4 separate regions of the Homo sapiens genome follow, and regions 2, 3 and 4 are each linked to region 1. The links come from fine-mapping of genetic effects on gene expression. A gene starts in region 1. Each other region holds a variant in brackets. All regions are shown on one strand. Distances are between the middles of the regions.

The links.
Region 2: its variant is fine-mapped to the expression of ABR in whole blood (TOPMed, PIP 0.96).
Region 3: its variant is fine-mapped to the expression of ABR in whole blood (INTERVAL, PIP above 0.99).
Region 4: its variant is fine-mapped to the expression of ABR in whole blood (TOPMed, PIP above 0.99).

What each region holds. Positions count from the first base shown.
Region 1 is chr17:1,178,398-1,182,397 of GRCh38, reverse strand. ABR (ABR activator of RhoGEF and GTPase) reads left to right here and starts at 2,417. Exons shown (of 23, transcript NM_021962.5): 1 at 2,417-2,731. The coding sequence starts at 2,671. ABR-AS1 (ABR antisense RNA 1) reads right to left here and starts at 771. Exons shown (of 3, transcript NR_187271.1): 1 at 470-771; 2 at 87-131. RefSeq lists an enhancer at 1,610-2,376.
Region 2 is chr17:1,207,496-1,211,495 of GRCh38, reverse strand. It overlaps a transcript of ABR not described here. Among named protein-coding and RNA genes, the nearest start is that of ABR-AS1, 28 kb to the right of the region's middle. The variant T/C (reference allele first, on the strand shown) is at 1,718.
Region 3 is chr17:1,099,830-1,103,829 of GRCh38, reverse strand. It overlaps ABR (ABR activator of RhoGEF and GTPase), which reads left to right. Exons shown (of 23, transcript NM_021962.5): 3 at 3,095-3,193. Among named protein-coding and RNA genes, the nearest start is that of ABR, 78 kb to the left of the region's middle. The variant T/C (reference allele first, on the strand shown) is at 1,886.
Region 4 is chr17:1,106,886-1,110,885 of GRCh38, reverse strand. All of the region lies in intron 2 of ABR (ABR activator of RhoGEF and GTPase), which reads left to right. Among named protein-coding and RNA genes, the nearest start is that of ABR, 71 kb to the left of the region's middle. The variant A/G (reference allele first, on the strand shown) is at 1,679.

The sequences.
Region 1 (4,000 bases):
AGACTCTGTCTCAAAAACAAACAAACAAACAAACAGAAAAAGAGCATGAACAGAGTGCCAGGGTTCAAGTCCCAGCCCTCACTTACCCTCTGAGTGGGTTACTCAGCTGCTCAGGGCCTCGGTTTTCTGACCTGGAAAATGGAGAAAACAGAGATAACAGTGACATTCACGGTGAGATCACGCTAGTGAACGAAACGCTAAGCCGGGCACACAGTCGGTGTTCTGTGTTCGTTATCAGAAGTTTCCTCTGTAGAGCCCTCAAGATTTGTCTCTCCCTCTACCCTCTATCGTGTTGTGGAGTGGAGGGTCCGAGAGTGCCAGGATTGGACAGAATGTAGACAGAAAAAAGCAAACTATGGCAACGCGAAGGAAAGCAACTGCCACATTTTAGCTTGGAGGATGCTGAAAATAGCTTGTTCAAGCCTTTGTAGATAAAAATGTAAAATGTACGCAAATGTATGTGACTCACGCAGAAGCATACATCCATAGCTCCCTCACAGTCAGCGCCGGATGTGGCCATCAGGAAAACCCCACAGTGTGGGGAGAGGGCCCGAGCGTTCTTGCTTGTTGTTGTTTTGAGGAGGGGACGGTGCTGCTGCCTCCTGGGCTGGTGGCTCCTGGTGGCGGCAGCTCACGCCCGTTTCCACCTTTCCCCTGGGCTGTCTTCCGAGAGTTCCAGGTGGGAAGAAGAGATGCCCTTGGCCCCTCATGGCTCCTCCGGCCTCGCGGTCCTCCGAGAGCCTGCTCGTTCCCTTCCCATGCCGAAGCTCTATTTCTGGAGCGTCTCATTGGAGATGCACGCCCCCTCCCTGCCAAGCTCCAGGTGCCTGCTTGGCCCTCCCAATCCTGTGTGCTAGTCAGGGACGGTGGGAGGGTGACAGCTGCAGGGAGGGGCGGCAAGAGACAGCGCTGGTGCCTGAGCCAGGAGGATTGGGGCGGAGGGAGCCCTGGGGACGCAGGGACGGGCTAATAATATTGAAAACCACTTCTGCTGCAGCCACCTGTAGAGGCTTCCCCACCCAGAGCATCATCCTGTGCGTCTCCCAGGGGCTCCCCAGCCTGTGATGAGTGGGTGACCCCCATCTCCCCTGGGGCAGCTGCAGAGGCCTCTGCCCAAGCAGCTTATGGGGCTTCCTCTCAGCATCCTGGGGGAGGAGCTGCTTCTCCCCTTAAGAACTAGATGTGTGTGTGTCTGTTTGGAGTGATGAGGACCGACCCCCACACCCCTCCAGCGTTCTGCGGGTGCCGACCACACTGCCCCCGGCAAAGGCCAGGCTGACTTAACCTTCCTGGTAGGCCTCTGTAGGGCTGGGCTCCCAGAAGTTTTCCCCTTAAGCTGCCTGGGGATGGGGTGGGGTGGAGACAGCTCCGGTATCTGAAATGTCACTATCTGGGGTACCGGGCCCCCTGGGTGGGCCCCACTGCTTCCCTTTCCCTGGGTTCAGGAAGGGGCTTCAGCCCCACTGCCCTGGACCCCCCTGGCCTGACTCCCCTCCTGTCCTTCCCTGCTCCAGGGTCGCTTGGCCCAAAGAGGTCTGTGGGGAAGCTGCCATGGCTCCCACAGAATCAGCCCACAGGAGACAGGCATGGGGCCCCCAATCTCTTCACTGCCCTTGGGCGAGGGGGTCTTCCTTAGAGGGAATTTCGTCTCTAAACGGTCATTTCTCAGGCCTCTTGACCCGACTTCCCACCATTTCTAGGTGATGATGCAAACACGATGGGCTTTCCAGGCCGCGGCTCGGGGTCCCCAGGAGGGGTCCTGGAGGGGAACGCGTGGAGCCCTTGGGGCTTCTCCTGGCTCCAGTTTGTCCTCCGCCCAGGAGGGGCACATGTGGGACTGTCCTGGCCCCACAGCCCCCGTGACTTCGGTCCTCCCGGGTCTCCACCCGCCCCCCTCCATGTGTGGCGGGAACGGCCGCGCTCAGAGGTCAGGGGTGTGGAAAGGGACGAGCGGGGGAAGGTTCGGGAGGAGAGAGGCGCGTCCCGCGGCGCGCAGGACGTTCACCCCGTGGGTCCCGCAGCGGGTCTGGCTGGGGAGGGGCCCGGCCGCCGCTCCCGCCCGCGAAGCCGCGCTTGGAGATCCCGGGCGGGAGGTGATGTCACCCCTGTGGGCTCCCGGGCCCCCCACGGCACCTGGTTTGCGGATCGCCAGGATCCTGCTGAGCCCGGCGCGGGGGGGACGAGGGGGACCTGGGTCTGCGCCGCCGCCTGGAGACCCCCCGAGACCCCCGCGGCCCCTCCTCGCCCAGCGCCGGAGCCCCGCTGCCCCCTTAGCCCGGCCGGGGGCGTCCTGCGGAGGGCGGAGCCTCGAGCCGATTGGTCCCTCCCCGCCCCGCCCCCGCACCAAAGCCCCGCCCCCGCACCAAAGCCCCGCCCCACCACGAAGCCCCACCCCCGCCCCGCCCCCCGCGAAGTTGCTCATCGGTTCCGGGATCCGCAGCTGGGCTCGGCGCGGCCGCTGGGGCCGGGAGGGTTCGGGAGGGTTTTGGGGGCTCCCGCCCCGCCCTCGCCCCTGCCCCGGCCGCCCCGCGCTCCTCCCGGGGACCTGGTTCCCGGCCTCCTCGCCCCTCCGCGCTCGCAACTTCGGCCTCCCCCGGCTCCCGCCCGCTCTCCCTCCTTTGTTGCGCGATGAGGGTCGGGTTTCGGATCTGACCGAGCCGCCGCCGCGGGATGGAGCCGCTCAGCCACCGGGGCCTGCCGCGCCTGTCCTGGATCGACACCCTCTACAGCAGTACGTGTGCCGGGCGGGGGCGGGACCCCAGGATCGGGATCGGGACCCCAGGATGGAGATCGGGACCCCAGGATCGGGATCGGGACCCCAAGATCGGGATCGGGACCCAGGCACCGGGCTGGTCCGGGGAGCGCGGGCGGGGGCGAGATCGGGGTCCGGATCGGGGTCGGGTTGGGAATCGGGATCGGGGTCGGGACCCAGGAGCCGGGCTGGTCTGGGGGGCGCGGGCGGGGGGTCCCCAGAGAGGATTCCTGCGGTCCGGGGGCGGGGACCGTGGGCGGACCGAGCCGAGAGCTGCGTCCCCCCTCCCACCTGTTGTGAACCCGGCCTCCGCGAGCCTCAGGGGAGGGAGGCCCTTCTGGGTGCTGCCCCCGCCCCTGGACCGGCAGCTTCTCTGTCCAGGCTGAAGCCGAAAGGCCGTTTTGGGAGCAGTCGTTGGCACCCGAGTTTGCCACCCCAGGGGCACCGGGTCATGTGTGGTTCAGGGCCCAGGGGTTCGGTGCTGGGGTGGGATCGGGTGGGAGGGGAGACGGGGGGTGCAGATATCCGCGGGGGCCGTTTGGATGCGGGAGCTGAAAATCCCGGGCTCAGCAATCTTTCCTGCCAGCCTCATCACCACCCCCACCCTCATCATCACCACCACCCTCAGAAGAAAAAAAAAACAAACCTTCTCGAGTTCTCCACCCCCTCGCTCCCAAATCTCTCTGGATCATGTGATTGCTCTTGCATGGCCCCGGGGGATGCGTAACTGATCACGGGTAATGGTGTGGGGGGGCTTGGGGCGAACCGAGAGCCGCCCCCCGCCCCCACCACCGCACCTTGCTCCTGCTCCGTTGCTAGAAAGGCACCGCCCCTTCTCCCCACCCTTCCCTGAGACACCTTTCCCGAAAGCTCTCAGGGATTAGGAAGAGGGTCCTCCTGGGCTTACATAGTGGATTTCGCCCTTCCTGGCCCACGTGAGTGGGACCCTCCCACTCTCTCAGCACATCTCCCAGGCAGGAGTTGGGGGAGGCACGTGGGGCCACGTGGAGCCTGGTTCAGCCTGATTCTAGGCACTGGATGCCATGGAACAGGAGCGTTTTCTTTCTTTTTTTTTTTTTTTGAGACGGAGTCTCGGCTCTGTCGCCCAGGCTGGAGTGCAGTGGCGCAATCTCCGCTCATTGCAACCTCTGCCTCCCGGGTTCAAGTGATTCTCCCGCCTCAGCCTCCTGAGTAGCTGGGATTACAGGTACCCACCACCACTCTCGGCTAATTTTTTGTATTTTTAGT
Region 2 (4,000 bases), 29 kb before region 1:
GCTTTGTTTTCTAAGCACCTGCCACAGGACCTGGAATAATTTAGATAAGGACTGACTGCAAGTCAGACACCTCTGCAGGAACAGCAGAAGAAGATCGATTTTTGGTGGCTAGCTCCACTGAAATGGAATCCCACTGGGTCAGAGCAAAACCTGGAATCCATATTTTTATTTATTTTTCATTATTTATTTATTTATTTATTTATTTATTCATTTTTTTGAGACGGAGCCTCACTCTGTCGCCCAGGCTGGAAAGAAGTGGAGAGATTTCTGCTCACTGCAACCTCTGCCTCCTGGGCTCAAGCAATTCTCCTGCCTCAGCCTCCTGAGTAGCTGGGACTATGGGCGTCTGCCACCACGCCTGGCTAATTTTTGTATTTTTTAGTAGAGACGGGGTTTCACCATATTGGACAGGCTGGTCTCAAACTCCTGACCTCATGATCCGTCCGCCTTGGCCTCCCAAAGTGCTGGGATTATAGGCGTGAGCCACCACGCTCGGCCAGGAATCTCTGTTTTTAACAAGCTCGGGAGATTTTTCAGCAGCCAGTCCAGCACCCCAGAGTTTGGCAGGCTTTGCCAAGTGCTTGATATGAGGTGGTAAATGTCTGGCACCTTTAAAATATAGGGCCCTTTCCGTCCATCTGGCCCTACAGGTTGATGTTAAAAGGATGCAAAAATACGGTTCTAAATGTCCTTAAGAGGCTAAGGTTGGTCTAAGCAAAGCATGGAGGAAAAAGCCCTTTTGAGTTTGTGTGTGAGTAGATAGGAGTTGCCAGTTGGTTGATAAAGTGATAAAGTAATCCTTTTGTGTTAGGAGCCAGGAAGCAGAGAGAGAGGAAACAGCCCAAAGTGATTTTTGGCTTGAGAGCAAACACAATAGCAGAAAGCTGAGTGACACCTGGACGATAGTGCAGAGAAGCTGAGTGACACCTGGACGATAGTGCAGACAAGCTGAGTGATACGCGGACAATAGCATGGAGAAACTGAGTGACACCTGGACGATAGTGCAGAGAAGCTGAGTGACACCTGGACGATAGTGCAGACAAGCTGAGTGATACGCGGACAACAGCATGGAGAAACTGAGTGACACCTGGACGATAGTGCAGAGAAGCTGAGTGATAACGTGGACGATAGTGCGGAGAAGCTGGGTAGCAGAGATGGGGTTTCACCATGTTGGCCAGGCTGGTCTTGAACTCTTGACCTCAGGTGATTCACCCACCTCGGCCTCCCAAAGAGTTGGGATTACAGGTGTGAGCCACGGCGCCCGGCTTAGGTCAGAACTTTCTACGCAGGTAAAAAGTGACAGCCCCCACAGTACCAACACAGCTGGGCTGAGCTTCCGCCTCTCTAGATTCTGTTACTTTCTACCTCTACTTTCTCCCTGTCTCTCTAAGAGATCAGCCGTCACTAATTTAGTGCTTTACTAATTTAGGTGTCTTTGCCATGAAAGATATGTGTTTTCTTTTTTTAATTTGTTGGAGGTTCTGAAGGCACTTTGGCATATGTATCTGTTTTCTTCAGCAGCAAAGATCATCGTGGAGTTAAGATGGCAGCTTTGTTGTGATTCGTAAATTTGCTGAATTTGTAAATAACTGGGGATACCTGCTGGACTTTGATAAATGCAACTTTTTCCAGTGCTTAAAAGAATTGCTGCAGAAAATTTAGAGTGATTATACCTCCAAACTGCTCAATGAAAAAGGTCAACAAAACAGTATAATTA[T/C]CTATGTATATGTGTAACTCGTATGTGTGTGGGGTGTCCACGTCACCAAGTATTAGAAAGTTAAGAGAGAAGGATGTGGACAATAAAACACCACCCACTTCAAAGCAGGTGCAGAGAGTAAGGCATTGTATGTCTGATTTTATGACCACGAGAGGTCAGTTCTGGGCTACCATAAACTCTATCTGGAAGAAAGGGATTCAGGCACCATTCAAGCAAACTTTGGCTGAGCATGGTGGCTCACTGGGAGGCCGAGACAGGTGAATCACCTTAGTCCAGGAGTTCGAGACCAGCCTGGCCAACATGGCAAAACCCTGTCTCTATTAAAAATACAAAAATTAGCTAGGCGTGGTGGCGCATGCCTGTAATCCCAGCTACTTGGGAGGCTGAGGCAGGAAAATGGCTTGAACCCAGGAGGTGGAGGTTGCGGTGAGCCGAGATCACACCACTGCACTCCAGCCTGAAGGACAGAGTAAGACGGTCTCAAAAAAAAAAAGAAAGAAACAAACAGGTTAAAAGAGAAGGATGTGAACAATAAAACACCACCCACTTCAACGCAGCTGCAGAGAGTAAAACACTGTATGTCTGATTTTATGACTGTAAGTTCCAGGCTCCCATGAACTCTATCAATTCCAAGCTCCCATGAACTCCATCCGGAAGAAAGGGATTCAGGCACCATGAAGGCAAACTTTATTGGCACCTGCATTGAGCCGAGCAGTGAACCAAGGGAAAGAGTTCAAAATTCTGCTTCAGGAGCCTTCAGTGTAACTGTGGTACTAGGCTAGCAAACAGGTGTTCACTACATACATGTATGTACAAGAGAGACCCATACTAAGCACTTGCCGTCTTTAACTGACTTGGCAGGCACAAAGCAGGCTTTTTTTTTTTTTTTTTGAGACGGAGTCTCACACTCTCACCCAGGCTGGAGCGCAGTGGCATGATCTCGGCTCACTGCAAGCTCCACCTCCCGGGTTCATGCCATTCTCCTGCCTCAGCCTCCCGAGTAGCTGGGACTACAGGCGCCCGCCACCACACCCGGCTAATTTTTTGTATTTTTAGTAGAGATGGGGTTTCACCGTGTTAGCCAGGATGGTTTCGATCTCCCGACCTCGTGATCCGCCCGCCTCGGCCTCCCAAAGTGCTGGGATAAGAGGCGTGAGCCACTGTGCCCGGCCGGCAGCTCCCTCTTGAACCTCTCCCTTACAGAGTCAACAAGGGAGCAGTGGTCAGCACTTCTCTACCGCGACGTTAGCAGAGAACTCGAATCTCATTAGTAGCAAGGACTTCTCTGCCACAGATGTGGCTCTGAGACTGGTTCTTCACAGGCTGACAGGGGACCGTGGCATGCAGTGATGGTGTGGGAATCACCCGATCGAGACGCAGCACATGCTGCTGCTGTTCCTGGAGAGGAGAATGTCAATTCCTCAGCTGGCCAAGGGCACTTCACACTGGGGTGCCCTGCGTTGCTGCTCCTGACACCTAGTTCCTTCGGGTCACAGGCAGAGCTGCCTCCTGTGTGTCAGTTGCCCAGGAAGGCCAGGAAGAACAAGTTCTAGTATCCACCATTTCCTTTCCACCCAGGGACTCATCTGGGGGTCGAGCAACTTCTCTTTTATAAACACTCATAACTCAATGGGTCTGCTACACCCTCATTCCTAGACAAGAGCAGGGAGGCCATCTCTGATATCAATGGCCCCAAAGTGGTTGATCTGGACAGGTGCGGTGGCTCCGGCCTGTAATCCCAGCACTTTGGGAGGCCGAAGCGGGTGGATCACCTGAGGTCGGGAGTTTGAGACCATCCTGGCCAACATGGTGAAACCCCATCTCTACTAAAAATACAAAAATTAGGCTGGTGCAGTGGCAGGCGCCTTGTAATCCCAGCTACTCGGGAGGCTGAGGCAGGAGAATCGCTTGAACCCGGGAGGCGGAGGTTGCAGTGAGCCGAGATCGCACCTCTGCACTCCAGCCTGGGCAACAGAGCGAGACTCTGTCTCAAAAACAAAACAACAAACAAACAAAAAACAAAGTTACTGATCTTCTAAGAGAGGCTGTGCAAGGAATTACAAAGTCATAAGGTCTGTGATTCCAACAGTTTCCTTTTTTCCCCCACTTCTCTTTTTTTTTTTTTTTTTGAGACGGAGTTTCGCTCATGTTGCCCAGGCTGGAGTGTACTGGCGCCATCTCGGCTCACTGCAACTTCCACCTCCCGAGTTCAAGCAATTCTCCTGGCTCAGCCTCCTGAGTAGCTGGGATTACAGGCGCCTGCCACCATTCCCAGCTAATTTT
Region 3 (4,000 bases), 79 kb after region 1:
CCTGTTAGCCAAGTGCACCGAGGCTAATTTCCCATCCGTACGCTCTCCAACGCCTTTGCTCCAATCTCAGCCAAAACTGCAGCGTGAACGGGGCCCAGAGCAGGACTCTTGGGGCTGACTGTTGCCTCTTGAGGGAGGGTCTTCCTGAGTTGTCTTCCCATCAGAACCAGCCTTTCAAGAGTGGACTATGAATGGAAGTCTTGAGGGGAGGATCTTGCAGAAATGGGCGATTACAGGGCTTCCAGGGTCTATGCTCGTGCCAGGGGGGATGAAGCTTGTTTGTGGCTGGGGCTGCAAATCCCTTTCTTCCCCCCATCCTAGTCCAACCAGCTCTACAGTTACAGCTCACGGTGTGGCATTTGCTAAACCCTCAGGCAAAACCTTGGTTGGCAGGGAACAGGAGGGAGTGCTAGCCCCCAGCACAGGGGATGAGTTCCCATTTGTCAAGGCTGGGAAGCAGCAGGAAGACCCCTGAGGGTCTGACCTGGAGGGGCTGGAGCTGGGGGCTGTTCCAGGCTCTGATCTTGTCCCCCGGGGCTACGTGTGCTGGAGGCTGTGCAGGCCTCTGGCAGTCCCGACTCTCGGTGCCTCAGGAAGATGATAACACCTGCCAGGTTTTGAGACTCCGGTGAATTGAACCACAAAGATAGCTAAGCTCAGTTCCTGGAATTTGTGAAGCCGCCAATAAGTAACTATTGCCCTTGCCTGAAGCGTGGGGTCTGTCTTGCTTTTCTAATGCTGCTGAAACAAATCGCCACAAACTTAAGGGCTTAAAACCACACAAATTTATTCTCTTATACAGAAATCTAAAAAGGATCTCGGCCCGGCTCCATGGCTCACACCTGTAATCCCAGCACTTTGGGAGGCCGAGGCGGGCGCATCACCTGAGGTCAGGAGTTTGAGACGAGCCTGGCCAACATGGTGAAACCCCATCTCTACTAAAAATACAAAAATTAGTGGGTGTGATGGTGGACGCCTGTAATCCCAGGTACTCGGGAGGCTGAGGCAGGAGAATCGCTTGAACCTGGGAGGCAGAGGTTGCAGTGAGCTGAGATCATGCCATTGCACTCCAGCCCTGGGCGACAGAGGGAGACTTTGTCTCAATAAGTAAATACATAAATAAATAGATTAATTAAAATAAAAAGGATCTCCAGGGCTGCATTGCTTCTGGAAGCTCTAGGGCAAGCTTTTCCAGCCTGCGGCCATACGGCCCAGGACTGCTTTGAATGTGGCCCGACACAAATTTGTAAACTCTTAAAACATTATATATTTTTCTTTTAGTTCATCTGCTGTCGTTAGTGTTATTGTATTTTATGTGTGGCCCAAGACAGTCGTCTTCTTCCAGTGTGGCTCAGGGGAGCCAAAAGATCGGAAGCCCCTGCTCTAGGGGAGTGAGTTCATTTTATTGCCATTTCCAGCTTCCAAAGGCTCTCTGCATTCCTTAGCTCGTGGCCCCATCCTCTGTCTTCAAACCTACCAGTGTAGCATCTTCCAAGCAGTCCCTCACCACTACCCTGTCTCCCCGGCCCTCTCACTCCCCTTCTGTGGCCACGATGCCTCAGGGAAAGATGGCATTTTAGGCAGCAGGTAAAGAACGAACCGAAAGCTAGAGACCTTTGAAGATGAGGAGGCTGGTTCTCCTGCGTGTGGGGGAGACTGAGCGATGTCCTGGCTGTGGGAAAGACTGGAAGGGTAGGGACGGGCATCCGGGCCACTGCAGGTGGCTCATAAAGGATATGGTGGGCCCCATGTCCCAGTCTAGGGCCGAATCTTTACTTGTTTTTTAAATGTCTTTCCGGCAGGGTGCGGTGGCTCACACCTGTAATCCCAGCACTTTGGGAGGCCAAGGCGGGCGGATCACGAGGTCAGGAGATCGAGACCATCC[T/C]GGCTAACACGGTGAAATCCCGGCTCTACTAAAAATACAAAAAGTTAGCTGGGCGTGGTGGCGGGAGCCTGTAGTCCCAGCTACTCGGGAGGCTGAGGCAGGAGAATGGCGTGAACCCGGGAGGCGGAGCTTGCAGTGAGCCGAGATCGCGCCACTGCACTCTAGCCTGGGCGACAGAGCGAGACTCCGTCTCTAAAAAAAAAAAAAAAAGAAAAAATAAATGTCTTTCCCACTAGAGTCTAAGCCACTTGAGAACAGGGGCCACTGTCTGTTTCCCATGGTATCTATAGGGCCTGGTGGACATTCAGTAAATATTTATTGAATGAATAAATAAATGGACACATAGCCCAGTGGAATCCCCAAGTACTCGCGTTTTGCGGTATTCATACTCGGTCCTTGGCAAGCATCGGGCAAGGTGGCACTCTTAGGAGTTGAATCCAGCTCTGGTGTGTGGGACAGGCAGGAGGAGAGGAAGAGAGGGAGGAAAAGTCGGTTCGAGAACCCAGGTGGAAAATAGATTGAGGGAAGCAAAACGAGATGTTACAGGAGGAATATGGGTGATTGTCTTTTCCTTTTATATTTCTGCATGTTTTGTATATTTTTTATAATAATATCTGACTTTTATCCCCTATGAAAGTGTCGCTTAAAATAAAAGGAAAGGGGAAAGGGGGGCCGGGCGCGGTGGCTCACGCCTGTAATCCCAGCACTTTGGGAGGCTGAGGCGGACGGATCACCTGAGGTCAGGAGTTCTATACCAGCCTGGCCAACATGGTGAAACCCCATCTCTACTAAAAATACAAAAAAAATTAGTCTGGCATAATGGCTGGGCATGGTGGCTCACACCTGTAATCCCAGCACTTTGGGAGGCTGAGGTGGGTGGATCACCTGAGGTCAGGAGTTCTATATCAGCCTGGCCAACATGGTGAAACCCCATCTCTACTAAAAATACAAAAATTATCTGGGCATGGTGGCAGGTGCCTGTAATCCCAGCTACTCGGGAGGCTGAGGCAGGGGAATCACTGGAACCCGGGAGGCGGAGGTTGCAGTGAGCCGAGATTGTGCCACTTTACTTCAGCCTAGGTGACAGAGCGAGACTTCGTCTCAAAAAAAAAATAAAGGTCGGGGGGGAAGGGCAGGGAAGCAGACCGTCCACGCAGGGTTTTGGCCTCCTTGCTCATGAGCTGTTGGCTGTGCTTTGCGTTTGTGCAGGTGGAAGCAGGGAAAGGCCTGGAGATGAGGAAGCTGGTTCTCTCGGGGTTCTTGGCCAGCGAAGAGATCTACATTAACCAGCTGGAAGCCCTGTTGCTGGTGAGTACAGTCCCTGCTCTGGGGCCTTCCGGTCCCCCCGCCCGTGTTGGGTGATGTCATGCTCTGAAGCTGCTTTTGGAGTTGGAGAGGAAAGGGGACCGTACCCGTCCCTCCCTGTGGACAGAGTCTGCAGCTGGTCTGCTTCTGGCTGGGCATCGGGCAGCCCGGGTCATTGCCAGAAAGGGCCTGTGCCTCTCAGCTCCAGCTCTCAAAAGGCAGGAGAAGCACACCCGGCTTAGAGATGGCAAACACACCTGTCACCCACGACCCTGGCATAGGGCATCGTGAACCCATCATGGTGCTCTGCCTGCCTGGGCGGGGGCCGAGCGCCTTCTCCACGCTGTGCTCTGGGCAGTCATTCCCAATCAATCCAGTTAAGAAGTCTCTGCCGTCTTGTGTCCAAGTCCTTCTACCTCCCTGGGTGAGGGAACCGTTAGTGCCATCCTGAGGCCCCGTGTCAGGAAATATGAGGTGGGAGGCTGTGTTCTTTTTTTTTTTTTTTTTTTTTTTAAGACGGAGCTTTGCTCTTGTCACCCAGGCTGGAGTGCAGTGGTGCGATCTCGGCTCACTGCAACCTCTGCCTCCCGGGTTCAAGTGATTCTCCTGCCTCAGCCTCCCGAGTGGCTGGAATTGCACGTGCACGCCACCAGTCCTGGCTAATTTTTGTATTTAGTAGAGACAGGATTTTATCATGTTGGCCAGGCTGGTTTCCAACTCCTGACCTCAGGTGATCTGCCCGCCTTGGCCTCCCAAAGTGCTGGGATTACAGGCATGAGCCACTGCGCCCGGCCTGTCTGTGTTCTTTTG
Region 4 (4,000 bases), 72 kb after region 1:
CCCACCCAGGCAGGGACAGGGGAAAACCAGGGGCTGGAAGGAGATGGGTGGGGTGGGGGTGTGCCTCTGTTGAACCCTGGTGGCACAGTTCCCTGATCAAAGGCTGTTAGCCCTGGGGCCCCTCAAGGGCTCACCCCGCAATCCCCTGCTCTGTATTTCAGCTCTGCAACAGGATGGAGCCTCTCTCCAGGGAGGGCAGCTTCTCTGCTGCCAATGGAATTGCATGAGCCCCACCTAGAGCCCAGAGCTTCTGAAGAATTCTGGGGGGAGTGGGGGGCTGTGGCCTGAACTCGGGCCACAGGTGTGGTTCATTTAGACGGCACCATGTTGTTTTAAAATGTTAATTATTTGCCATCGTTTTAAAATCAGGAGCATTCCTGTTAATAAGCCAGATTTTAGCTTATTTTGAACAGAGATCAGGCAGCCATGAGCTTGCGTTTCCTCCAGCAGCCATCGGCTGGAGTGAGTGGTGGTTTCACCCTGCCCTACCTGGCTCGCTTCACCGGCTGGCCTCACCCGCAGGCCTCACCCGCACCCTCATGGGTGCCGTTTGCAACCTTTGCTCCATCGTTGGGTTGTAAAAGAGCTTTTCCCAGGGCCTCCTCTGGACTCCTCCTCCCATGGAAGGAGGTGTATGTGCATCTGGGAACTAGGGCCAGGGGGACCAGAATGTGGCCTCACTCCCTGCACAGTTGGGGGTTCTGCAACCATTGGAGAAGCCAGGGGAAGCTGGCTGGGAGTGGGCAGGGCCGGAGATGGTGCCTGTCCTGGGTTCTGTGTGCACTCCCCTTGCAGGATGGCTCCCTGCGGTGGGGTGGCTGGGGGGGCTGCTTGGAGGAGGTGGGGGTGCTGGTCTCAGCAGTGCCTGTGAGTAGGTGGGAGGCTGCTCAGAGGAGGTGGGGGTCCTGGTCTCTGCAGCGCCTGTGAGTAGGGGGGCTGGTCTGTGAGTGGGGGGGCTGCTCAGAGGAGGTGGGGGTGCTGGTGTCAGTAGCGTCCGTGAGTGGGGGGACTGCTCGGAGGAGGGGGGCTGCTTGGAGGAGGGGGATCCTGGTCCCTGTGAGTGGGACGCCCACCGCTCCTGTGCAGGACAGTGGTGGCGCCGCGCTCCTGCCTGGGGGCAGGTCAGGCCTGTCTGTTGCAAAGCCTGACTCCTCCAGCGGCGGCGGGACGCGGCTGTGGCTTCTGGGCGGGCCGGGGCCTCCCCTCCGGAAGGGGGCTCCGGCGCATGGGGACTCCGGGGTGGCTCTGGGGGTCGCCCCTGCTCGCCGGGCTCCTGGCTCGGCCGCGCGCGGGGAATGAAGATGCGTCTGGGAAGCGGCCTCCCCGCTCCACCCCACCCCGGCCCGGCCGCGGCCTCCTCGCTCCTCCTCCGCCGCAGAAGCCTCCGCCAGCCGCGGCCCCGCAACCCCAGAGGACGGGCGGCTCCACCTCGCGACGCGCGTTTCCTGTGTGTTCGGAGCGAGCGCGAGCCCGAGCCCCGGAGCCCGGGAAGGGCGGGCCCTGCGGGGCCGGGCGGGACACGGAGGAGGGCGCTGGGCTGCTGTGCGGCGGGTTCGCCTCCGCCACGGGCCGGGCACGGCGTCAGGGGCTGCCCGGGCCTTGCTCCCCCTTTCGCCGGGCGAGGACGCGCGAGGCGGCGGCGGCGGCGGCGGAGCGGGCTGGACTAGGTCCGGGATGC[A/G]GTCCCGGGTCGGGAGCCCCAGGCCGGGCGCGCGGGTGTAGACCTGCCCCCCCTCCCGCCCGCCTCCTCCCTCCTCCCTCCTCCCGCCGCCGCTGCGTGGACCCCGCTTCCTGTCTGCCCTCCGCGGGCTCCGGCTGCCATGGAGGAGGAAGAGGAGGCGATAGGCTTGCTGGACAAGGTTCTGGAGGACGAAGATGTGTTTCTCCTGGAGGAGTGCGAGCTGGGAACCCCGACCAGCCCCGGCTCAGGGTCCCCCTTCCTGGTGGCTGTGAAGGTGGGAGCGTGACACGCCCTGGGCGCTGGGGGGGGCCGGGCCGGCGCTGCCGAAGGTGCGCGGGAGAAATGGCTGATGCGGGCGCAGAGCGCGCGGCCGGGTGGAAGCCCTCGGCGGAGGGTCCCGGCCCCGGCAGCTGTTCCCGGGGGAGAGGGGCGGGCCTGCCTCCCCGACCGGTGTCCTCGGGGCAGTGGTGGCCGCCCCCTCCAGGCCAGCCCAGCTCAGGGCTCCGGCGGCTGTGCCAGGAGTCACCTGGCGCGCCTGTCAGCCCGAGCCTCGCCGCCTCCCTGGAGCGGGTGGGCAGGAATCCCCCGTTTCCACGGCAACCGCAAGAGAGGGGCCACCCTCTTCCCAGCCAGGAGACAGGGACTTGGTGTCTCCGAGCTGAGGCAAGAGGGTGTTTGCAAAGGGCAAGAGCCAGAGGTCACTGAGCTTCCTTGAAGGAAAAGCACTGGGTCAGCTGAAGGGGGGAGGGAACAGCTGGCTTGGAGGCTGCAGCCAGGTGGGCAGGTGCCCTTCCCGAGGCGGGACAGGCAGGGAGCATCTGCTGGGCCCTGGCCCACCCGCTCTGGGGCTGACGGCGTTCTCTGCAGCAGTGACCCGTCCTGTAGGAGAGGTTGGCTCCCGGTGGAACTGGAGGGCAGTGGTGGCCAGAATCCCTTGAGGAGCGGGGCGGCCCCGGAACCACGCCGGCTCTGTGAGTCTGGCCCGGCACACCACAGCGGTCTTCCTTTTTCTCTCCTGGACACACCTCTCAGAGCTTCCACCTCAGCCTTTTGCTCAGCTGCTCTCTGGTTCTGTGTCGAGAAGGGAGGCCCAGTGAGGATGCGTTTCGGGGAGTTTGCAGACTGCTAGGCGAGGCTGCCTAACCGAGTGCCCATCGGCGGGGCCTAGAAGGCATGTGCAGCCAGCATTGCTGGGGACGGGAGGCTGTCCCTGAACCTCTCTGGGCCTCCCTGCCCCTCACAGAAGATGGGGATCACAGTCCTGCCCCACCCACTCTACAGTGTGGCTCTGAGGAGGAGCCAATGGAGGTAAAAATAGATGCAGAACCACGGGAGATGGCTGATGTGTGAGTATGGGTGGAGCGGTGGCTGCAGGCCTGGGTGGGGAGTGGAGCTGTAGGGAGGCTGGCAGTGGCTGGCACCCCACCCTGTCTTCTCTGATCTGGTGCTGGCGTAGGGCCGTGGGGGTAAGTCACGTCTCCCCGTGGGCTCAGGGAGGCCTCTGCACTTAGGGTCTGACCAGCCTCCCCACTAGGAACAGGGTGGGAAAGTCTGCTCCTGAGCCAGGAGTCAGGCTGGGAGTAGCAATGCTGGGATGGGAGGTGTGTGGCCCTCATGGGCCTCCTCTGGGAAGCCCCCAGCACAGATGTGGGCCCACTCAGAGGCTGCCTCCTGGACCTCCCCTTCTGCTGGACCCCGGCGTATGCCTCAGCTAAGCCCGTATTTCATTCTGCTCAGATGCTCAGAACTCTAGACATTTGCCTCCGCAATTATATCCCATTCTCCTGGAGGACCAGGACCATGTCATATTCATTGCTGAACACTGCACAGTGCTTGGTGTGGGGCTGGTGCCTGTGAGAGTCTGCACAATGTGTGAGGCCCGCTGGGGCCCACGAAGGGTGCACCAGGTTCCCAGCCTCGCTCCATCTCAGAGGTGTCCTGCTGTGTACGGCGGTGGCCCACGGATGCCAAGAGAGCCTGAGCACGTGTCACACCTGAAAACGCTGCTCCTCCTGGGTCCCCGTGAGCACCGGGATGGTGTCTTCCCCTCTACTTTGCTGCCAGCATGGGGGAAGGAGACCTTTCTCGAATGCCGGGGAGTTCCAGGCTCCCTGCTCCATCCTGAACACCTCTAGAATTCCTCCCTCCTCTACCGGCATTGGCCTCAGAGGGAGAAGACAAGCAGGTGGCCACAGAGCGGTGGGAAGAAAGCTCCTGGATTCATTCAACAAACACTCTCAGGTTAGGTGCTCTTCAGAGCACCCTGCCTGGCACTGTAGAGATGACAAGAGGAACAAGGCGTGATCTTCCCTCACAAGGCGT